Linked DNA regions of Homo sapiens. The protein of the gene in region 3 interacts with the protein of the main gene of each other region in a pairwise test. Each region holds a gene or a part of one and is shown on either strand. Other genes may lie near its edges.

Evidence for each region.
Region 1: the proteins of ZBTB43 (region 3) and ZNF250 interact in binary tests that used the Homo sapiens proteins (3 or more experiments, as listed by UniProt).
Region 2: the proteins of ZBTB43 (region 3) and CCDC13 interact in binary tests that used the Homo sapiens proteins (3 or more experiments, as listed by UniProt).
Region 4: the proteins of ZBTB43 (region 3) and LNX1 interact in binary tests that used the Homo sapiens proteins (3 or more experiments, as listed by UniProt).

The regions. Positions count from the first base shown.
Region 1 is NC_000008.11:144,898,030-144,906,576, forward strand, and holds the start of ZNF250 (zinc finger protein 250), read right to left. Parts: upstream 3,425-8,547; 5' UTR 3,370-3,424; exon of another isoform or gene 3,308-3,369; intron 2,277-3,307; exon of another isoform or gene 2,111-2,276; intron 1-2,110. Other genes in the region: uncharacterized protein LOC124902042, read left to right, coding at 3,653-4,252. UniProt on the Homo sapiens protein: May be involved in transcriptional regulation.
Region 2 is NC_000003.12:42,706,698-42,714,705, forward strand, and holds part of CCDC13 (coiled-coil domain-containing protein 13), read right to left. Parts: intron 6,620-8,008; coding exon 6,465-6,619; intron 3,102-6,464; coding exon 2,987-3,101; intron 2,443-2,986; coding exon 2,283-2,442; 3' UTR 1-2,282. UniProt on the Homo sapiens protein: Required for primary cilia formation and promotes the localization of the ciliopathy protein BBS4 to both centriolar satellites and cilia.
Region 3 is NC_000009.12:126,836,040-126,838,710, reverse strand, and holds the end of ZBTB43 (zinc finger and BTB domain-containing protein 43), read right to left. Parts: 3' UTR 501-2,671; downstream 1-500. UniProt on the Homo sapiens protein: May be involved in transcriptional regulation.
Region 4 is NC_000004.12:53,458,259-53,462,952, forward strand, and holds the end of LNX1 (E3 ubiquitin-protein ligase LNX), read right to left. Parts: intron 3,336-4,694; coding exon 3,177-3,335; coding exon of another isoform or gene 3,173-3,176; exon of another isoform or gene 2,785-3,172; coding exon 2,649-2,784; 3' UTR 1,271-2,648; coding exon of another isoform or gene 1,044-1,270; 3' UTR 1,043-1,043; downstream 1-1,042. Other genes in the region: FIP1L1 (pre-mRNA 3'-end-processing factor FIP1), read left to right, coding at 395-532, 1,044-1,191.

The DNA.
Region 1 (8,547 bases), on a different chromosome or scaffold from region 3:
GGCCGGTTTTGGGGCCAGTTTATAGCCAGATTTTGGGGGGGCCTGATCCCAACAGTCAGGAGTTCAAGACCAGCCTGGGTGACATGGTGAAACCCCGTCTCTTCTAAAAATACAAAAATTAGCTGGGTGTGGTGGCACGTGCCTGTAATTCCAGCTCCTCCCAAGGCTGAGGCATGAGAATTGCTTGAACCTGGGAGGTGGAGTTTGCAGTGAGCCAAGATCGCGCCATTGCACTCCAGCCTGGGCAACAGAGTGAGACTCCATCTCAAAAGAAAAAAAGCAAATAAACAAACAAACAAAACAAAACAAAACAAAACAAAACAAAAAAACAACCAAACTGATAGCTTTCTTATATACCAGTAACACCTAATCAGAAAATATGAATGGAAAAAAATCTATTCAACAAATAGCAACAAGAAACAAGATTAAACCTTAGAAATGCAGAGTCCCTATAAAGAAAACTGTAAAACATCAAGGAAACACTTGAGGACACTCATGTGGGAAAACATTTTTTGGGTAAGACCTCAAAAGCACAGGAACAAAAGCAAACTAGACAAATGGAATTACATCAACTAAAAAGCTTCTGTACAGGAAAGGAAACAATCAGCAGAGTGAAGAAACAACATACAGAATGGAAGAAAATATTTACAAGCTATCCATCCGATAAGGGATTAATAACCAGAATGCAGAAGGGAGTCAAACAATTCAATAGAAAGAGACAACTAATCCGATTTAAAAACAGGTAAATGATCTGAGTAATTTATCAAAAAAAGACAATATGTATGGCCAACAAGCATATGAAAAAAACTAAAAATAGATCCACCATATGACCCAGCAATTCCACTGCTTGTTATATACCCAAAAGAAAGGAAGTCAGTATATCAAAAAGATATCTGAACATACATGTTGACTGCAGCACTATTCACAATAGCTAAGATATGGAATCAACCGAAATGTACATCAAATAAATGGATACAGAAAATGTGGTATATGTACACAATGGAATATGATTCAACTATAAAAATAAGGAAATTATGTCATTTGCAGCAACAGGGATGGAACTGGAGGTCATTATGTTAATTGAAATAAGCCAGGTACAGAAAGACAAATATTGCATGTTTTCACTCGTATGTGTGAGTTAAAAAAGTTGGTCCCATGGAGGTAGAGGGTAGAATGATGATTACCAGAGGATGGGAAGGGTGGGGTTGGGGGGAGGTATGAGATGAATAGAAGTGGGTTAATGACTACAAACATACAGTCAGATATAATGAATAAGTTCCAGTGTTTGATACCACGGTAAGATGACTACAGTTAATAATTTATTGTATATTTCAAAACAACCAGAAGAAGAGATGTGAAATGTTTCCAACACAAAAAATGATGTTTGAGGTGACAGACATCCTAATTACCCTGATTTGATCATTATACATTGTATGCTATCCTTGTATCAAAATATCACATGTATCCCATAAATGTGTATAATTATTATATTCAATAAAAAAGAACTTTAATAAAAATACAGGTATATTTTTATTATTTCATGTGGGAAGGGCTGTTCTAAGCAAAATACCAAAAGCAAAAAGCAGAGCTCCACAGATCTGCAGCTTATAAATCAAAATCATATGCACATCAAAGCTACCAAACTCCAAAAATGGACCTAAAGGCATGCAACAATTTAGTATATGACAAAAGCGGTTTTTCAAATCAATGGGAAGATCAATGGTGTTAGAAATGGCTATGATTTAGAGGAAAAAAGGAATTCCAAAAGCTGTATTCCAAACTCACCCCACAATAAAATAAATTCCAGACGTATCCAACATTTTACAAGTACCACAGAAAAACAAGAGTTTATTTTAAAAATAATCTTGGAGTGGGGAAAGCCCTTTAAAACACAGCACAAAGCCCAAAATGCCTTAAGGCAAAATATTTGACTCCTAAAAATTTTAAATTTTCTATTTTGAAAAAGCCCAAACCAGAATCAAACACCATAATCAGAGTCAAAAGACAAATTGAGAAGCATGTTTTCAACATACATGGAAAAAAATATGAGCTGGCAAATCACAAAGAAATACAAATGGCGAAAACACAAATGAAGGGATTTCAATCTCACCAATAAACGCAAAACGTCGACCTGGCAGGAATGCAGTGACCTGTCAAAGCCCACAGGACCAGAGTCCCGTCCAGGGCGGGAATGTCAATGGCAATCTCCCACCCTTACCCACTTCGTAGAGACCACCGGACAGAGAAACCTATGTCCAGAAGACAAGTTACGAACTGAAAAATCTGCGAGTACCCACCCGGCGGAGGACGAGTGGAGCGCCCCCTGCCGCCCCTGGTGTTAGTCAAACGACACCAGCTTCCCTTTGATGACAGAAAAAAGGGTGTGCGTGCGTGCCTAAAGCTCTAACGGCATTCAAAAATTCTGAAACTGTTCACAGCTCCTGCCTCTTCATACACTGGCAGAGTGTCGGGGGGGATGACTTTTATATATTTCTGACATGCCTGCATTAGAAGAAGTATTGCATATTATTTTCAATTTTAAAATTAAGCCAATAAACAACAAGGAAAATATTTGCTGTGTTGCAAAGAGTTGGGCTCATTCATTAAAATAGGGCTCTAACACAGTAACAGAAAAGACAGCATCGACAGCAAAATGGGGAGAGGATAAGACACCCGGCAAGTAGCACACTCGACCAACTGCTGAAACGAAAGCAGCTCGTTTTCGTCTTGACGCGGGAAGACTTTTTATAGCTAAGTAAAGTGGCGCTCCCGGTGCGCCGCCGGGGTCTTCATGGGGCTCCTCAGGATGTGCATCAAACAGAAAAAACCTCCATTTTTATATTTTGGGGAAGCTCCCCACCCCTTTCCGGGCCCATCCCAGGGGACGCGAGACCCCGAGGAGCGCGGCAAGAAGAGCGGCCCGGGGGTCCGGACTGCGCCCCTAGGACTCCGGCCATCCTGGCCCTAGGCACGGCGCCCGGTAGAAAGCGCGCGGGAGGGCACGAGGGGGAGGAAGGCCGGAGATCTGAGGAGATCCAAGGTGGGAGGGACGCCGGTCTGACGGGGCCCAAGGGGGTAGGGGCGGGGAAGGGACCGAGGCCGTCCGAGGCGGACGGGGGTGCGGGAGGGCCTGAGGGGGTCCAAGGCCGGGCGAGGGGAAGGGTGGGAACCCCGAACGGGGGAGAGGGCGCGGCCTTGGCCCTGGGGAGGAGGCCGCCGCGCGTCCGTGAGGGGAGGGGACCAGCGTAAACGCAGGAGGCAGTGCGTGCTCGCGGGGAAGAGTCCACGATTCGTGTGGAGGACGCACCGGCTCCGGTGTCCGTGATGGGAGAGGGTCCTGGCCGGCGACGACACGCGCCCCCCACTCACCGTCAGAGCCGCAGCCTCACGCGCGAAGGAACGGCATCCCGCAGCACCTTCAGACAAAGGGCTGCCCCGCCCCGTCTGCGCAGCCGCCAATCCCTGGGGGCTCCTGCCCCTCAGTTCCCGCCCCCACAGCCGAGTTCGCCAATCCTGGAGGGCAAGCATGTTTACGTCATTTGGCCCGCCTGCCCGCCCGAAGCCTTTCTCGGTGACCGACTGCAGGGAGCTCTCAGGAGCCACCGAGAGCCAGACCTCCGCGATCCCTAGAGGGGCCGAACACCTCTGGGCAATGGGCCCGGCCGGCTCCCCGGCCGCACTTCCGGGCGCGGAGGTTACAGCCCATCGCCGAGCCTTACCCGCTCGCAGTCCCGGTTCCCGAGCTCCTGCCGCCGTCGCCCTGTGGAGGACACCCCTGCCGGCCCCGCAGTCCCTCCTCGACTTGCGCTGGCTTCGGCCGTCCTGGAACTCGAGCTCGTTCCCCCCTCCGAGCCTTTTGCCCTTGCGGTTCCCGCTGCTGGGAACGACCTTGCCCTCAGCCGCCTGGCTGGTCCCTGCGCCGCTGCAGTGCGAATGTCGCCTTCTCAGGGGCCCTTTCTCTTCCTTCGTTGCAACACTGAAGTCCTCTTGTTTGATGACTTGCGTGAGGTTATTCCTCCCACTTAGGAGGCTGAGTGCTGCGAGGTCCGAGGCGCAGCCGCTCTTCGCTGTGTCCGGCCCGGCGTGCTCCCGACAGGGGGCGTCACTGAACAGCGACCGTCTCCGTCGCCCACTCGGCCCTGGTGTTTGCTTTTTGGTGTGTTTACACCGCGCACCTGGGGGAGAGGGGCGGGCCTTCACGAGGGCGCGGGCCACACCCGTGTGGAGGCTTCGGGCACAGCCCAGGACCTGACAGCCGCGGCAGGGAGGGTGGGGCTGGTTTGGAGCGGTGTCAGGGGACGGGAAGGCTGACGCCTAGTCCACCTTCTGCTGGCCCCACTCCCGAAGGTCAGGTCCGCGTCGTCCATTGGGCGCGTGGGCGGGCCCAGACTCTCAAGAGGCTTCCCCACAGGGCGGGGCTGGGGGCTGCGTGGGGGCGGCGGGGAAGGCTTAAGGTTAGGGGGTAGGCTTGAAGCGAGTGCCCGGCCCGTGCTGTTGGGAGCGGAGGCCGGGAGGATGTGGCGATAATTCCGTACTTGCCGCGCACCAGGCAGACGCGAAGTCTGTGCTACGCTTCAGCGAACTTAGCAGCCCTTGCGGGCAGGGGTTCGCACTTCACGGAGCTACCATCCACCACGCGCGTTTCGAGCAATGGGCCCGTTGCCTGGCGCACTAGAAGCCAAAACGGTGGCACCAGTTTTTGAGAAAAGAGAAGGCTTTATTATTTCAAGGTCGACGGCCAAGGAGACCGGAGGCATGGCTCAAATGTGGCTCCCACATGTGGGCTTAGGTCAAAGTCGACGGGTTAGGGAGGACAGGTTGGCACACAGAAGTGCTGGCGGGCAGGTTTCAATAGGAGGGCTTTAAACTTGGCCATTTATGGTAAGGTGTGGAATGGCAGGTTTCAGCACCAGATCTTCCAGGATAATGGACCCTTCCCTTCTGAAAGCGTTCCGCCCCTCAAGCTCCGGTCATGTCCCTGTCTTCTTGGCTCCACAGGGAGGAAACGTTGGTTCCGAGTTATGATTTTCCTCCTTTGTGCATGTCCGGGTTACATGACTTTCAGTTTTGGCTCTGCTATACCTCCTGTTACCAACAGAATAGGGTCAGTTTGGGCCAGTCTTGTGGTTACACCTCAGTGTCACAGGATTTCCTCTGCCAAAGGGCTGTGAAGCTCAGGACCAAGGTAATCAAAATTCAGCTCTACTATTGGATTGTCCTGGATTGTTTTAGCAGTTGACAGGGATCAAGCTCTGTCCCAGCAACCTTGATCCCAACAGAGAACTGATGCTCCTAGGACCTTCACCTCAGACCTCAGTGCATCCTGGTTTTTGTTTTTCTTCCTCCTCCACAACTTTTTTATTTTGCAAATGTTGATACATTCATAAAGGTTGAAAGAATAATACAATGAATACCTCCGTGCCCTTCACTTAGATTTAGCAGCTGACATCCTCTCTAGCACGTCCCTTCTGTGTCTCTGTCACTCTTTTTCCTTCAACAGCACAATGTTTATTGAGTGCTTGTGTGCTAAGCACTAAGTGTCGGGGCTACATCAGTGAACAAGCAAGTGCCTAACAAATCCATGTCTTTCTGGACCATACATGTGAATGGAGACAGTAGGCAATACGCAGAATAAATGTAGGAATTACAGAGTGTGTCCAGAGATGGTGAGGACTACAGAAGGTCTGGGCAGGTGCCATTGTGTCTGCTGGTTCACCTGGGCGACATGAGGCAGCAGCTGCCCCCTCTTCCTCTGGCTCCTTCAGCTCCAAGACTAAAGGCTCCAGCTTCTCCTATAGGGCAACAAAGGGGTTTCAGCGCATCCTGGGCTCCAGCTTGAGGTCACAGACCTCAACTTGTCTCTCCTCACTTTACATCCATCTTCCCTTCCCAACTGTCTGCCCTGTTCCAGCATCAGATGCAAAGACAACAGCCTTACAGGAACTGTTAACTATGTGCCACAATGGTGTAAGGCACAGTCCCTGCAACAAATCGTATATGATATATATAATATATATACACACAATTTACGTATCGTTCATGAGTATACAGTTTACTTTTTTTATTTTTTATCCTTTTTTTGAGACCGAGTTTCGTTGTCGCCCAGGCTGGAGTGCAATGGCATGATCTTGGCTCACCGCAACCTCTGCCTCCTGGGTTCAAGCCATTCTCCTACCTCAGCCTCCTGAGTAGCTGGGATTACAGGCGCCTGCCATCATGCCCAGCTAATTTTTGTATTTTTAGTAGAGATGGGGTTTCGCCATGTTTTGACACCAGTTGTTTTGGAAAAACTCAAACTGTTTTTTTTTCTGCTCTCACACTGCCACAAGTGGGATTCAAACCCACACCTACCTTAGGAGACCAGAAAATTGTTTCAGAAAAACTCTCAAACCCTATTTTTCCTCTGCTCTCATACTAACAACACAGAAGACTTATGTAGCCCCAAAATATATGGGGATTTCTCCTCATCAGCAAGCCATCAATTCTACTGGGTGTCCTCCAGTTCAGCTCCTTCACTGTCTACCTGGAGATAGTGCCGGATCCCACAGGATGAGGGCTCAGTTCCCGACTCCCCAATCCCCGACAGGAGTCACAGCCTGGGCCTCCAGAACTGATTGACTTCCTTCAAGTCAGTTCACGACTCCCCAGTCCCCGACGTGAGTCATAGCCCGGGCCTCCAGAACTGATTGACTTCCTTCAAGTTGGGGTTTCCATGACTCCCTCTTTGGGTTTGATTTGCTAGAACAGCTCACGGAACTCAGGGAAACCCTTACTTATGTTTGCCAGTTTATAATGAAGGATATTACAGAGGATACAAATAAAGAGATGTGTAGGGCAAGGCATGGGGAGAGGGGTGCAGAGCCTCTGTGCCCTTGCAGGGCACACAGCCCTCCAGGAACTTCCATGTGTTCGGCTCTCCAGAAGCTCTACAAACCCAGTCCTCTTGGGTTTTCATGGAAGCTTCATGACATCGATATTTTTTCCACCAGGCTATGAGGTGGGACCCTCTCTGGAATGATGGTCTTATGACCCACAATCAGAGAGGTAGGGGAAGATTAGGGTCCTGCGGGCAGGAGGTCAGAGAGATTTTGTTCTCTGAAGCCTAATGCATCCAATGTTATAACAAACGAGTGTAACAAGGGCTATGGCAGTTATGAGCCAGAAACCATACAAACGTGTGTGTGTGTGTGTGTGTGTGTGTGTGTGTGTGTATGGAAAGAGAGAGAGAGACCAGAAGTGCTATGCTGGAAACTATTCTTTTGAGGTTGTGTTCACATTTTTTTTAACCAATTTAACATATTATGTTACTATCTCACTTAAGATTGGCATTGACTGTACAACAGAAAGCTGATTACAGTGGCTGAACCAAATAGGTGGTTTTTTTTATGAGTCAATTTTTCTAGGAATACGGAGCCCATCCAAGGCCACACAATGCCACCAGGCCTCTAGGCTCCCCCTTTATTTTCCATTGGCCATCTTAATAAGCAGCTTTCATTTTTTTTTTTTTTTTTTGCCTCATGATTGCAAGAAGACTGCTTCATCACTAGAATCACATCCAGATTCCAGGCAGAAAGAGAAAAAACAAAAGACAAAATCAAATGTATGCTCAGCCAACCCCATGTCTTTCAGAACTGCACCCTGTGACTTTTACTTATGTATTTTTGGTCTAAAGTGTGTTACAAGACCAATTCTAGCTCCAAGGGTGATTAGGAAAATGTGTTTTTTCAGCTGGGTAAAGTGCCATGTTTAACATTAAAAATTGCCAAAAATCAGGCTGGGCACGGTGGCTCATGCCTGTAATCCCAGCACTTTGGGAGGCTGAGGTGGGCGGATCACGAGGTCAGGAGATCGAGACCATCCTGGCTAACACGGTGAAACCCAATCTCTACTAAAAAAAAAATACAAAAAATTAGCCAGGCGTGGTGGCAGGCACCTGTAGTCCCAGCTACTTGGGAGGCTGAGGCAGGAGAACGGTGTGAACCCAGGAGGCGGATCTTGCAGTGAGCCAAGATCGCGCCACTGCACTGCAGCCTGGGTGACAGAGCGAGACTCCGTCTCAAAAAAAAAAAATTGCCAAAAATCCCTGATGGTGTTTTTGTGATGCAATGTGAGAACTTACAGGTAATCAATTTGACACCAGATAAGTGATAAAGAGTAAACTTAAAAATCAATTTAAAATTCATATCCTCAGATCTGATTTCATTAACTATCATTCAGTTTATCCTCAACCTAATTAATATGTACAACTGAGGATATTTAGAAATACTCTGTTCAGAGAAGAGAAATAAACATTTCTTATGGGGAAATATACTATAAGGCTGATAATAAATTGATTTTTAAAAATATATTTGACTGCTATGTCCTTACTGCTGTATTTTTGTTGCTTTATTGAGGTATAAATTGCACAGACAATAAATTGAACATACTTTTAGTTTGATGAAAATGTTGACCTAAGTAGATGCCTGTGAAACTATCCCCACAATTAAGATACTAAACAGGTCCATCAGCCCCAAACGCCCCCATCCCTGGGTCTGCTTTCTGTCACTC
Region 2 (8,008 bases), on a different chromosome or scaffold from region 3:
CTCTCTTATATAACTCTTGTTGAAATCAGTCTATAGATACATGTTCCTTGTACAGAAATAAACAGAGAGCTAATAATTAGTGAAACGTCTTTGGGTTATTCTTTGACATACATATTAATAACAGCCCCCTGAGGGAGGATTCTATTATTGTCTGCATTTTATAGATGAGAATGTGGAGGATCAGAGAGGTTAAATAACTTGCCCAAGGCCACACAGCTGGTAAGTGGGGAGAGAAGTATGCCCCAGGCAGCCCCACCTGTCCAGACTCCATGACCTAATGCTCCTTCCTTTCTCAGGCATAGCCCAGGAAGGGCAGCAGAACCACCCTGAAGTGGCTGGAGTGTGGGTCACACCATCTCTGCACTTCCCTGAGGTGATCTTGAGGAAGGATGGCTGATCCTATGCCTGCTTCTCACTCCCTGGGACTGCACTGAGGCCAGAGCCTGTACCCCTCATACTCAGATCACCCTCTGGAGCTCCTCAGGGCCTGCAGGAGAAGGTGCTGACTCCTCTGTGTTCAGACTCTACATCCAGCCCACCCCTCGCTGTCACACACTGTCCCCTCCAAGCACAGACCCTCTCTCTCCTGGCTCTCTGCCTGGCCGTTTTCCTTCACAAGGAACCAGAGAAAAACTCTTCCTTCCCAGAGACCCTTAGGACCCCACCAGAATCATCAGTTCATCCCGGTGGCCTTTGCTCTAACTTGCTGTGGGATCTCTAGATCCGTGTGACCCCATGCAGGGTCAGGGGCTCCCTGAGGAGTGGGGGCCAGCTAGGGTCCCTCCATAGCCCCATCCCCAAGGAAGGGGCTGAGAAGACAGGGTCCCAGGAGCCGCAGTGGCTTTTCCAAGGAAGGAGCTGACAAGATGCTCGCAGGAGCCCCAGTGGCTTTTCCTGGGGAAGGGGGTGTTTTCACAGTATGTGCACCTGCATTTGTGCATCACTGCACAAGCAACACACAAGTGGCTATGTCTTCACGTGTGGGAATGTGTGTCCACATCCACATGTGTGTGCTCATCTGCACCTGTGTGTCCATGAGTGTGCACACATGGAGGTGCCTGTGTGCACGTACAGTTGCATGCTCCTGAATTGAGGTATGTGTGTGCATCTGCATCTTTGTGTGGGGCTGTGGGTGCACCTGTGTGGCCAGGGTGTCGGAGTTGGGGTGTGTGGCTATGAGTGACCCTCCTTGGGGCCACTCCTTCCTGTAGCTATAAGTGCATAGTTACAGCTGAGAAAGGGCAACACTGACAGTCATAGAGGCCTGCGGATCTTAGGGTGCCCCTGCAGCATCCCTCCAAGTTCACCATGGCGAGGGAGGTGCACTGTACCTTTGACTGGAGCCACTACCTCAAAACCCTTCTGCCTGAAGCTCCAGCTGAGCCCCACCTCGGCCCTCTGCCACCAGCATCCATCAGCAGTCTTGGTGAGCAAACAAAGATGCCTCTTGGAGCTGCTGCCTAGGGGTGGGGTTGTTCAGTGGTGGGTGGGTGCGCCTACCCTGGGTAATCTCTGAACGGCAAGACCCTGGTTTTGGGGTCAGGCAGACTGCAGTTAAATATTAGCTCAGCTTCTTTCTGTGAACCTCAGTTTCTTCATCTGTCAAATAAGACAACAAACCCCTGGGTCATTAGAGGACTGAATGGGGTCAGGTTGCCACAGTAGATGCTCACTCACTGGGAGCTGCAGTGATTATGAAAATACTTATTATTATTACAAGTCCAAGGGTCTGCACCTGAGGAAGTGTCCTGAGGAGTGGGCTGACAAACTGGTTGAGAGCATAGTGCCCCAAGTCTGTGTAGGGTGTGGACGGCTACAGATGGAGCCGGGATGGGGGTGAGGGGATAGGGCAGGGCTGAGTGGCATGGGGGATATGCCCACTTAGGGTAACCAAGGGCTCTTCTGTGTGTGAAGCCATGGGGACATCCAGGGCTAGTACCTAGGATGAGGGCGATGAACACCTGCCCGAGGGACTGCATCTGTCCATTCACAGCCGCCTTGCCATCCCAGAGCTCTCGCCTCTGCCAGTGGGCTGCTGGGCCTCCCTGCTGCTGTAACCCAGCCAGCCCAGGGTCTCCTGCAGTGTCCCACCAGGGCTTCTCTTCTGCCTTCCTGGCCTGAGACATTGGTTTTGGTCATCCTTAAGGAGCCTCTTCTGGTAGAAGTGGTTGAGCTGGCTGCCCTGGGCTGGCTTCCCGGAGCAGATGGAGTCCTCAGACAGAGTCTTATCCTCTCAAGACCTGAGGCTGCCCACCCGGCCAGGCCGACACTGGGCTGTCATCCTATTGCTTGCCTGTCTTCTGCTGCCGCAGGGCCTGCAGGAAGACACTTTTCACCTGGCCCAGGATCTCATGGTACATCCGGAAGTCCTCCTCCTTTCCCCGCAGGGCACTGCCCAGGGCAGCCTTTAGCATTTCATTCTCCTCCACCTGGATGGCCAGCCTGGACCACAGGAGACAGTGCTCAGTGTGGCTGGAGCTGCACACAGGTGTGCGTGGGTGACAGAGGGCCCTGGGAATGTGGTTGCCAGCATGGCTGCTCTTCAGGCTCAGGCTTCCCTCTGACCCATCCCCTCCTCTCACTGACTCTTGTGGGTACCATGGATTCCTCTCTATGGGCCTGGCTCCCTGCAATGTAAGCTACCTCAAGGCCCCTTACAAATTGAGTTCCAATTTGTAGAGGTTCCCGTCTTTCCCTTCCCATGGCTGCGTGGGGTCTTAAAAGGTTTAACGTAGTGAGAAACTGGTTCAGTGATCCATGCTTGATAAAATTTCTCTTGGACTATGGGTCATTGGGGTTTGGGCCGGGCCCTCTGTCCTCTGAAGGCCAGTCCCTGAATTGCAGGCCTAGAACCCAGGACCAAACAGGACAAGCCTTCTGGGCAAATGAGTCAAAAGTGCAAGGGGAGGGACACAGTCCCTCTGCCCATGGAGGCACCTCTGCTCAGACAACCCTACCCTTTCAGGAAGGCGGGGCAGGGGAGCACCTGGTTGTCAGCTCTTCCATTTGGGATTCCACGGGCACATCGGAGAGCTGGGCAAAGGATGGGTCCTTCTTCTCGCTCCCGGTTGGGTTGTGCCTGTTGTTAGAGGTGGGCAGACCTGTGGGGCAGCAGCAACCACTTTCTGTGAGGAGGCCACAGCCCTGTGCTAGCACCCTGCTTCTCCTCCCGCCATTGCCCACTGCCTGCTCTTCCACATGGTGAAACGCTACACCGCCTTCGGGGTGCAGGGCAACTCTGAGCTCTGCCTCCCTCCGAAGCCCTCCCTGATGCCTCCTCTGCATGCCTCTGCCCCTGGCTTTGGCCTCTGCTACAGCCCTGACTCTGCTCGCTTTGTACCAGGGTGGTTCCTCACCACCCTGTCTCCATCTTTATACTTTACAAGTTTCTGGTAATTTGTTTTCTTTTTTTTTTCTTTTTTTTTTTTTTGAGACAGAGTCTTGCTCTGTCACCCAGACTGGAGTGCAGTAGCGTGATCTCAGCTCACAGCAATCTGCGCCTCCAGGGTTCAAGCGATTCTTGTGCCTCCCGAGTAGCTGGGACAACAGGTGCCTGTCACCATGCCCAGCTAATTATTGTATTTTTTGCAGAGACAGGGTTTTATCATGTTGGCTAGGCCTCCCAAAGTGCCAGGATTACAGGCGTAAACCACCATGCCCAGCCTGGTAATTTGTTTTCAAAAAGAGAAACCAGCTGAGCCTGAGGTCTGGCCTGCAGGCTGAGCCCGAGTCTAGACTGTCACTGTACCTGATGCCCTCATACCAGTGGTCCCCATCCAGGCCATCAGCTTCATACTAGGAAGCAGGGGATCCAGGGTCCTGGAGTTGAAGGGTACAGAATGTTCACAAAAAGGAGACAAAGTGGCCCACGGTGGGGTGGTCCCAGAACTTTGGGAGGCCAAGTGGGGGCAGATTGCTTGAGGTCAGGAGTTCAAGACCAGTCTGGCCAACACGGTGAAACCCTGTCTCTACTAAAAATACATAAAAATTAGCCAGGCATGGAGGCATGCACCTCAAGACTAGTCTTGTGTAAACCTGTCTCATTGCTGGGGAGGCAGCAGAGTGGCTCTGCCCTCTACAGGGGCTGGACTGAGTGTTCTTCAGGGCCTTTCCTGGCTCCAGGGGACACTGCTAAGCTGCCCTTGGCTTATTCCACGCATTGAGCACCTCCACATCCCCAACTAGAGCTGCCCTGGATGGGAAACTGCTTGTTCAGCCTGATGGAATTTTCTAAGCCCTGTGACACAGGGAATCAAAAAGAGCCTCAGCCGGGTGCGGTGGCTCATGCCTATAATCCCAGCACTTTGGGAGGTCTAGGGGGGTGGATAATTTGAGGTCAGGAGTTCAAGACCAGCCCGGCCAACATGGTAAAACACCATCATTACTAAAAATACATAAATTAGCAGGGTGTGGTGGCGAACCCCTGTAATCCTAGCTACTTGGGAGGCTGAGGCAGGGGAATTGCTTGAACCAGGGAGGTGGAGGTTGCAGTGAGCTGAGATCGCACCGCTGCATTCCAGCCTGAGGGACAGAGTGAGACTCTGTCTCCAAAAAAAAAAAAAAAAAAAAGACAAAGCTCAACTGGTGGTGGCGAACTTGGGCAAAATCACAGCATCAGAAAACCTCGGGACTGAAAAGGCCCTCAGAGGTGGTGTGACCCACAGTAAATTACTTGGTATCAGAAGACCTGGCTTTCGCCCTCTGCTGAGAGGCCTCAGGCAAACTATCAGCCTCTCTGAGCTGGTTTCCTTAGCTGAAAAAAAGGATAATAGTTTATGCCTCTAGAGCTTTGGCAGCCTCAGTGAATTCTATTTGGCTCTCAAGGCCCTGTGTGATTGGACCACTCCAGCCTCCCTGCCTCCTCCCTGTTCCTCCAAGCATCCAGCTAAGCTTCCAAGCACCGACACTTGTCTTTCCCTCAGGGATCGGCAGGCCACATCCCCTCCCAGTTCCTCCATCTCTGCTCAGATGTCTAGCTCCCCTACTGGAGTGAGACTGCCATGGGGGACTGAATTATAAATCTAGCCTCCTCATTTTACGGATGGGCCAGGGGGAGGCGGGTAAGTGGTGCTCTGCTCACCAGAGGGGCAGGATTTTGCCCATGTTAAAAGCCAGTAGGCAGCAGAGGCCACCTGGACACTTTCCCTCAGGCAGCTGCCCTCACTGTCCAGCAGGGAACAAAGTGACTTGCCTGCTGTGGCTTAGCTCTCCCTGGTTGGAAGTCCTGCTGCCCTACAGGAGGTAAGCCCCAGCCTGGAGAAGCCACACTCCTAGGGAACATATTCCTGAGAGTCCAAGAGGGTCAGCAAGGCTAAGCCCCAGAGACCCTTCCTTCCCGGCCTGGATTCTCAGAAGCTCCTGGCCCTGCTGGTGGGAGAAGAGAAAGCAAGTGGCCCCAACACCCTCTTTATGCCCTACTTCTGGCACACCCTTCTGAAACGTTCTGACCTCATCTGGGCTGAGGACTGAGACCAAGGGTCTGACCATCCTTGGCTGGGGAGGGGTTGGGGGGCTACTGGGGTGTTGAAAGAGGGTGCAGTGGGGGCAGCAGCACCTCCAGCATTCCAGCCTGGAGGGGGCTGGGATGGGTGGGATGGGAGGTCAGACAGAGGCAGGCCCAGCCCCTCCACATTGGAGACCCTTCCTCCCTGGGAGTCAGCCATCCCAGAAATGGCTTCTGGCTCTGGCATCCTCCAGCTCGCCCCAGCCCCACAGGATGCTGATGCTGCTCATCTGAATACTGCACCTTGAGAACCACTGTGTTCGAGCGATAGACTTTTCAGTTAAGGATAGCATTTCCCAGCTTCCCTCTGCACCTGGCTATGCCCAACTGTCTGGCTGATGGGATGAGAGCAGAAGTGACATATGCAACCGTAAAAGGTAAGGAGAAGTTTGTCTCCTTCCCTTCTCCCCTTCCTGCTGCTGATGGGAAAGCTCAGGCAGTCATTGTAGACCAGAAGATGGAAGCTGCATGTTGAGAACAGTGGAGCCACAAAACAGAGGGAGCTTGGGTCCCCAAACCTCTGGTGAGGCTACTTCCTGCTTATATCAACTTGACCATTGCAGGAGGCACAAAGGGACTCCTCCCCTGCTTCAGCCACTGTTGCTTGGGCTTCCCCAGCAGACCAGCTGTGCCCCATGACCACTTTGAATGAAGTCAGCTTAGGATAGAGGGTTGAGGGCTAGGGTGGCTGGGGGCATTCAGCACTGCCACCTCATGCTGAGGGCTTACAGGTGGCCAGGCCAGGGCCACACGAGGCAATGGAGCTCTGGGGCTCCTGCTTCTGACTGAGAGGCCTGGGGAAAAGAACACCCCACAGTGGAGGCAGGCAGAGCTCCACCCTGATGGAAGCTCTGCTTCCCACATGCTCACTGATGGGCTGAACAGTGCAGCTGCCTGGCTCCTCTGTTAGCAGCAACACTGCCTCCACCCCCTGCACTGAGACTACTGCCCTGGCCCCTACCTGTTTTGGTCCTGGGAGCTGCTCTCTGGGAGGCTGATGCCTTCCCTGGCTCCAGGCGTATCTTCTCCAGATGTTGCTCCAGCACCACGGTGCGGTGTCGCTCCTCCTGCAGCTTCCTCTCTGACTCCAGGAGCTTGCTGTTGCTCTCCTCCACCCTGGTGATTAGAGAGGAGGGGATGCTACATGCCCTGGCAGGCAGGGGCAGGCCCTACCCCACTTGCTCAGGCCCTTAGAGAGATGGGCACATCTTACATTGGTAGTGATGGGACCTCTTCATTTTCATTGCAGTAACACAGGAACATGCATTTAAACACCATATGGTTCTCTCCAAGGTTAAAATTTAAAAATTATCAGCCCACTCCCAGCCCCATCATTCCCAATTCCTGCTCTCTAAAAGCAATCACTTATAACACTTCTAGCTGTTTCTTTTAATATTTACTGCCATATTTCTACAGATGCTTATGTTGCTATTTTTAGGTTTATATAAGGTTTAAATATAATCTTTTGACTTCCTGTCATGCAAAATAAGAATTTAGTTTTATTTTAGTACTCTCCTCCTACGAAACAGAATCACCTGTATACGTTTTTGGATGAATTGATATTAGGTATCAGTTTTCTATCACAGCTATAACAAATTACCATAAATTTAGCAGCTTAAAACAACACAAATCTATTATCTCACAGTTCTGTAAGTCAGAGGCCTGGCAAGCTCAGTGGGTTTCTCTGCTTCTGGTTTCACAAGCCGAAATCAAGGGGTTGGCTGACCTGGGCTCTTATCTGGAGGTTCCGGGGGAAAATCCACTTTCAGGCCCATTCAGAGTGTTGACAGAATCCAGTTCCAGGTAGTTGAAGGACTGAGGTCCCTGTTCCCTGCAGGCTGCTGGTCAATTTCACCTTCTAGGAGCCACCTTGCCCCCTCCATCTTTAAAGCCAGCTAGATACCCTTAACACACTTTGAATCTCACTACCCTCTCTGACTTCCTCCACAGCAACTCTCTGAATAATCCCAGACGGAGATATTTCTCTGCTTTTAAGGGCTCAAAAGATTACATTGAGCCCACCAGATAATCCAGGATAATCTTTCCATTTTAGGGTCCATAACAATAATCATATCTGCAAAATCTCTTTTTCATGTAACATAAAGCACTCACAGGCATAACAGCAGGGAGCAAAGGGCATAGACACCAAAAGCCTGTCTACGTTAGGACAATTAGTTAGAGCCATGACGCACAGTGTCATATGTCCTTTCTCATTTAATTGTTCGCTTTTCTTGGAGTTAGTGATTATCTTAAGCTTATTGTTTTGTTTTCTACATGCCTGTCATAAATGTTATTTCACATGAAGCACTTGTTTAATCCCACTGGAGCTTGAGCTTAGGTCCTTCCTGTGGCTAGGTGTGCCATTTCAGACTTCTATGATACTAAAGGTTCATTTAGTGAGAAAGCCAGAACTCCCTGAGATCTAACCCAAGCCAAGAGTTACATGCACACCTGAAAATTAGAGGGGCAGCCTTGAAACTGACAGTGTTGGAGGAAGTGATCTTT
Region 3 (2,671 bases):
AAGCAGGGAGTCAGGACTGAGACTGGCTTGAGGGGACAAGGGGAAGGTGTGGCTACTAAACCCCAGAAGTTGCCTGACAGGACCTGTGGGCCTTGGCAGAGGAGCCCAGCCACCGCCAACCCACAGCTGGCGGGAAGGAGCCAGGGGAATGAATTCCCTGACTTCTCTGTTCTCTGTTCTGCCAGGCTCCACCCAGAGTGTCTCTGGATCCTGACCGGAAGCCAGGACAGGTCCACCGTGGCCAGCTTCCTGGAGAGAAGTGCATAGCAGGAAGGGGGCCCAGGGGGCACAGAGAGCCTCTAGCACACCCCAAGTACCCGAAGGGGCCAGTGGGGGTCTAAAATATTACTATAAATGCCTGCCTGGCAGTCACTCACTGCCCATTGGATCAGATTATTTGGCATTTACTTACCAAAACGCCACCATATAACTGTATTCTCAGGTGGCAAAACCCAGAGTCAAACAAGATGTGGTCATCTACTCATAGTGAAAAACAAAACTTTTACAAAGTTGACAGATAACATTTATTAAAACATGTCATACAAAAGGGCATGATCTCTTCTATAAGAAGAAAATATTAAACATTAACATTCAATTAAGTAAAACCATGCTGTACACTGAAGACAGCAATATATAAAGACAAAACTATTCAACTTTTGCAACATAGGCATAACATTTCACAAAATATCAATAAGATATGCACCTAATGATAATCTGTTTATCATCAAATGGTTTTGTGGCCTAAGAGTCACCTGACTTGCATAAATAAAGTACTTTTCTGGACGAAACATTGGGAACCTCACAAAAGGAAAGAAGGCAGCAGCAACTAACATGACACAGGCTTCAAGCAAAAATTAAAAAAAAAAAAAAAAGTCACATTTGCAAAATGTGTTCCAGCATCTCCCCATAGGGCACTATCAGTAGAGATTTGAAATAAGAAACTTGTACCTTTAAATATGTAAGTAGCAAAGAAAAAAACCCCAAACAAACCCTGGTTTCACTGAACAAAAGTTAGTCACCCACTAAAGCAACCTAAATCACAAAACTGGTGGCACAGGAGGGATTGGGGATAACACAGTGCTGGTTTCCAGCACCCCTAAATTATCAGAGACCTTCCAAAAGCAAAAACCTGGACTCGTTGTGATGGCGCCCTCTCCACGCCCACCCAGGAGGCCGCAGCACATCCCCTTCCCCAGGGAAAGCACAGCTTTGCAGCTTCTGCTCCGTCTCAAATTCACTCCACAGCAGCTTGGGGGTGTGTGAGCCTCTCAAGGAGGGAGCCCTGGAGGCTAAGCAGCTTTCCCCGGTGGTTAGAAGCCAGCCTTAGGGGCAGGTTAGTTCAGCAAATGCCCACTAGAATGGAGGGGATCCCTTTGGGCAAGCTTTTAAAGTAGTGGCCAAAAGGGACCAGAGGAAGATGAGACCTAGAAATCGGAATCAACAGGCTGGGGGCCTGGAGCGCCTGCAGGCAACCTACAGCCCTGCAGGGTAAGTTACCGCAGTCCTTCCTTAGTTAACGGTGACATGCACTTCACCACGTGGATTACTGTAACGTGTGTATCTAAAGGTAAAAGCATGGCATAAGTATGAATTTTTTTTTTTTTTTTGAGACAGAGTCTCGATCTGTCGCGCAGGCTGGAGTGTGGTGGTGCAATCGCGGCTCACTGCAACCTCCGCCTCCCAGGTTCAAGTGATTCTCCTGCCTCCGCCTCCCGAGTAGCTGGGATTACAGGTGTGCGCCACCACGCCTGGCTAATTTTTGTATTTTTAGTAGAGATGGGGTTTCACTATGTTGGTCAGGCTGGTCACAAACTCCTGACCTCAGGTGATCCACCCATCTCGGCCTCCCAAAGTGCTGGGATTACAGGCGTGAGCCACCATGCCTGGCCCCAAGTATGAATATTAAATACCACTGGTGGTGCCTTGAAGCCCTTTCCCATGGGGATTGAAGAAAAACCACAGTTAAGACTCAAAGTAGGGGACAAATAGCTTGGTTGTAGGCCATTGACGTGATCCCTGAAAGATTGTTTGAACAATGTTACCCACAACCATCCAAACTTATTAGGAAGGATAAAGATTTTCTAAAGCTATATTGAGGTGAAGAGAAGAGACTATTCCTCCAACTCAACGTGGGGATGAAAAAAAGGTAAAAACCAGAGTTTACAAAAATTCACTTTTAATATTCAAATGAAAGCAACCCCCTTCTCCTGCCTCTCTGAACATGGCCAGCATTTCAGACACCCTACCACCTCCCAGGCTCTGGCTGCCTGATAAAAAAATCCCAATTTTTGCCAAAACCTCAAATACCACAAAACACTAAAAGAACAGATGTGAGCAACTTATTTAAGTTCTACATTTAGTAGCTGATGGACACATAAGGCTTTCAAGAAGACACTCTTCTCTTCACAACATATTAAATAAGTCCTAGCACAACTGACTGCTTCCAAAACTACCACCCAAGCGTGCCACCACTCTTGGCTGAACAGAAACTCTTCCTCATGACAAGGGCACTATGCTGATTTCAGCAGAACTGAAGGACCACGACTCTCCCAGAATATCTGTATTTTTACCTCTCAGACTTCTCCTGCAATGTCCTAATGATCATGTAAATAGTCTTCAATGAGAAACAGGACATCAAACCTTCCAAACAGGCAGAAAATGCTCTGCTAAT
Region 4 (4,694 bases), on a different chromosome or scaffold from region 3:
CTGAGATATACAAATACTATTTTAATTCTAAAAGGAGCAAAAATTTTAAAAGCTGATAACAATTTAAATCAGTTGCAGATCTCACTTTTTCAAGAAATGAAAAAACCAAAGCATTGTTATATTAAATCTTTTTAACAGCTATGAAAGCACAGAACAAAATTGGTCATTTAACATGTGTAATTATTATATATTTATATTCTTAGCTCTAGTGCTATTTTGAGAACAAGCATTATTTTCCTCTCAATTCAACGAATATTTCTTCCTCACTAATGTTATAAAAGATGCTAATGTGAGGATTTTGGATTTGGACTGCAGATCACATCTCTTTTACAGTTTGAATCCATTCAGAATTAATGGTCCAGTTGTCAAGAAAACATTTCTATTTCAATTTCAGCGATGAAGAACGATACAGATACAGGGAATATGCAGAAAGAGGTTATGAGCGTCACAGAGCAAGTCGAGAAAAAGAAGAACGACATAGAGAAAGACGACACAGGGAGAAAGAGGAAACCAGACATAAGTCTTCTCGAAGGTTTGCTCTTTAATAAAATAGTGAACCAATAGTATGTGAGAGATTTTGACTTACTACATTGTCGCATTGGAAGAGGGGAAATTTTGGCCTATGAACCAGTCTTGCTTGGTTTCATTAAAGAAAAATTCAGGGCCTTGTCTCAAATTTTTTTAAAAAAGCATTAAACAAAATACCTATTGTTTGCCAAAAATCAACCCTATACAGTATTTCCGGTTTTGAGTTAATGCCTGTTTCTAATTTGTTACTGTATATTATAATATGCATTTCAGAAGCTGTGTATAGGCACTGGGAATCTGAGATAATATCAGTGAAGATGGCCCTATAAAATAAATACAATCCCTGCATAAAAGTCACATAAAACTGATTATTCCTCACATTATATTTATGAGAAAATGCATTAGATTATTTTAAACCCAGTGTTATATTGAGAATTTCCTTAGAGTGATTGGATTTTTGTCACTGATTGTGTATTTAAACAGAACACACCTTTTTTTTTTTTTTTTTTTTCCAGTAATAGTAGACGTCGCCATGAAAGTGAAGAAGGAGATAGTCACAGGAGACACAAACACAAAAAATCTAAAAGAAGCAAAGAAGGAAAAGAAGCGGGCAGTGAGCCTGCCCCTGAACAGGAGAGCACCGAAGCTACACCTGCAGAATAGGCATGGTTTTGGCCTTTTGTGTATATTAGTACCAGAAGTAGATACTATAAATCTTGTTATTTTTCTGGATAATGTTTAAGAAATTTACCTTAAATCTTGTTCTGTTTGTTAGTATGAAAAGTTAACTTTTTTTCCAAAATAAAAGAGTGAATTTTTCATGTTAAGTTAAAAATCTTTGTCTTGTACTATTTCAAAAATAAAAAGACAGCAATGACTTTATATCCAAGAAAGGAATGTGAATGAGTCACTTAACAGGGAATCTAAAGAGCTGTGTTAGCTGTGTACATACACAGATTATCTGAGAAAAGGTCAAGGGTTCCACTTGGGCCACAGTTTTTTTGTTAATCAAACACCACTCTCTTAAGAGGCTGCATCACAAAAGGCAACAAAGGGCCCCTCTAAGGCTTGAGATTAAAACTAGTCTTTATCATTACTGCTGTGACACTCTTGCTTAGTATATTAAGAGACTCATACATTTTTGATATCACAACTTTTTGATGGCTTTTCAATATTCTAAATTTGGGTTCCTGGTGAAACCAAATGGGGTACACTTTCATATCCAAATTAATAAAACCTATAAGGCATCTGGGTGGCCTCTATGAAATAAATTAATTAATTACCCATAGTGTAGTTTCTAGGAGGCATGTGTACACACACTCTTCATTGTGGCACAAATTTAAATCGCCTCATGACCATGTCTGTGAGCCAGGGTCAAGCTGGTTTGGCCTTCTTGATGCATTTTCCAAGGCCCACTGGTGGAGCAGCATGAGTTTTTATACAGTTACTAACGATTGTGGAAAAAAAGAGCTTTAGCCATTTCTTACTAAAAACAAAACAAGTTTATAATTAATTCTCTGAGCGAGCATTTTTAGGGATAAGCCTAGGAGGTATTCATCGGTGATGGTAACAAATAACATGGTATTTGAAAGAATAAATTACTAGGATCTTTTAAATAGTGATAATACAAAAGTAATCTTAATTAGTATCACATACTAAAAGACAACTATAACTTCTGAAAAATATTTATTCTTGTTTGATGAAAGCAACGTTTCTCAGCAATGCATTTTAAAAAATATTTTAGCTGTAAATTAAAAATGGCCATAATGTACCCTTGGCAGACTTCAGCATATACCAAATTTTAAATTTAAATCAGCTTGAATTCAGTGGGGTATACAAATCATTTTAGTTGTTTTAGGGCTTTTTATTGAATAGAAAAAATATAAACAATGTTGTAGAGTAATGAGAAATCCTCCACACTGAAAAAAAACTAGTAGTTTTAATTTTTTTGGAATCATATTTTCTGAGGTGTAACTGGCTTTCATTAGATGATCATACTTTTCCTGACATTTTTACAATGTATTCTTTCTTTAAATATAAAAACTGACAAGATAAATATAGTGTTTCAACTTCTTAGCCTATTTGTGATTTTTCTGTTTTCCTCTGACCCATCATTGATTCTATAAAAAAGTGCCAGGCCAAGAAACAATAGTTAGAGTAATTCTTCCTTTAAGTTCTTTCAGCAGTCTTGCCAAGCAAGCATGTATCATTCCTGATGTACTTCTACCATTGACAGCAAGAAGAATATCACCACATCTAAAAAAAAAAACAAAACAAGATATGATTAGTATTTTAATTCGTTGCTGAAGTTAATGCAAGTTTATCTTAGTGGTGCTAGATTTTGCTACATCTGACCATTTTAATTATGTTAACTTCTAATTGAGATATTTCTTGCCTCTTATTTACATTCTCCAAACTCACTATCCATTCAGCTTGTGTTAGAAGGAATGCTAAAAGTATGGGGAGTTGTAGTATGGGACCAAGAATATGTGTAATTATTTTGGATTTCTCAGAAGTTGAATGCTACGTACATACTTTTAATCCCCACAAAGTATAATAAATACATGCCTTATCTCAAATGGGGCCAAGCTTTGGCATTTATGAAACAACATTTAATACAAGTATTTTTGATTAGTCATTATTATTACCTAATTCTTCCATCATTGTATGCTGGTGTTCCTTCAACAATGGATTTGATGAAAAAAGGTTTGTTTCCATTGTATTCTTCATAACCTCCTACAATGCAGAAGCCCAGACTTCCAGCTGTGTTTCTTCGTAATACAATATCTTTACAGTTATACAAGCACCTGAAATAGAATGTAATCAGTGTACATGCATATTTAAGTTTCACAGTTAAGGGAATACTTACTGTGACTCATCCTCCATTCCTTTTGTTGGCATTTTTAATGGCTAAGTACCACTGCATAGGTCCCACTCAAAATTGTATCATACCTTGGTGACCTTTGTGCTGTTAGCTGGCTTTTTGTAATTGAACCTGTTTTCCATAATTTTGAATATCCTTAAAAAACTGACAGCCCTATTGTGTTCTGTTACACATCTACTGGGAATGATAATCATATTTTTAACTTAAGACAATGCTTGAATATGTATTAGCAAAAAGTTGGATAAACCTAAATCCTTATTGGTGAACAAACACACTTATGGATGTCATATTTTTATTTACTTGATATAATTTTAATGAGGGCAAAAATCCTTTGAATAATCTCAATGAAAGCAGTTTAAGCCTAATCCTAATAAATGAATTCGTATACTTTTTTTGACCTTGGAAAAATACCACTTTACACCCAGTGCTACGTTTGATAAGTCATAGAGAAGCATGCACGCATAAAGTGAATGGAAACAGAAACGTTTAAAGATTATAAGAACAATTCAAATAGGAGGAAAAACAAACTGCAGGAAACTGGATAGGAAGTTATAAAAGGAATGGGAGAAGGAAAGGCCCAGCTCTTCTGTAAATTAGAATCCTCAACTAAAATAGCAAATGAGATTGAAGAAATTTTTATTCAGTGGCCCCCAATGGATCAGTGTTCATATAGGTACAGGCCAAGTGTTAACTATGTTATAATTGCCATAGAAGTGTGTGTCAGGAGCTGAATTTTACTCCAGGATGACGTTGTTGACCACATTTGTAGCTGTAGTCCGGGAATTGGTTTGAAAGGAAATTGGCATTTTCATGTTGCCAAAAATCAGATATGGCTATTTTGTTTATATACCGTACCTTAAAATATTAACTGCTTTTTAGAAACCAATAAAAAGTCTTGTGAAATGTTAAATGATAAAGTTGATCATTACATTTGTTACCAACCTTGTTAGTCAATGTGACGTGACTTTTTTCATGATGATGTTTTCACTTGAAATAAAATGAGCTTTAGGGTTTGGCAAATACCTTTAAAATGTAATGCTGAAATTCAACTCTAACCAGTTCTGAATCTATCGTCATACATACACATCATCTATAACAATTTCTTTTACTGAAATGATTGCTTAAAAGTATGAATTTCATTAAATTTCCTATTGTAAAATATTTATCTGCTGCATTTCACAGTAAACCTTGATGTCAGTGGTAAATTCATTCTTTGGGAGCTGTGGTGTGTCACATAACACACTTTACATAACGGTTCACTGACTCCTCATGTACAAAGCAG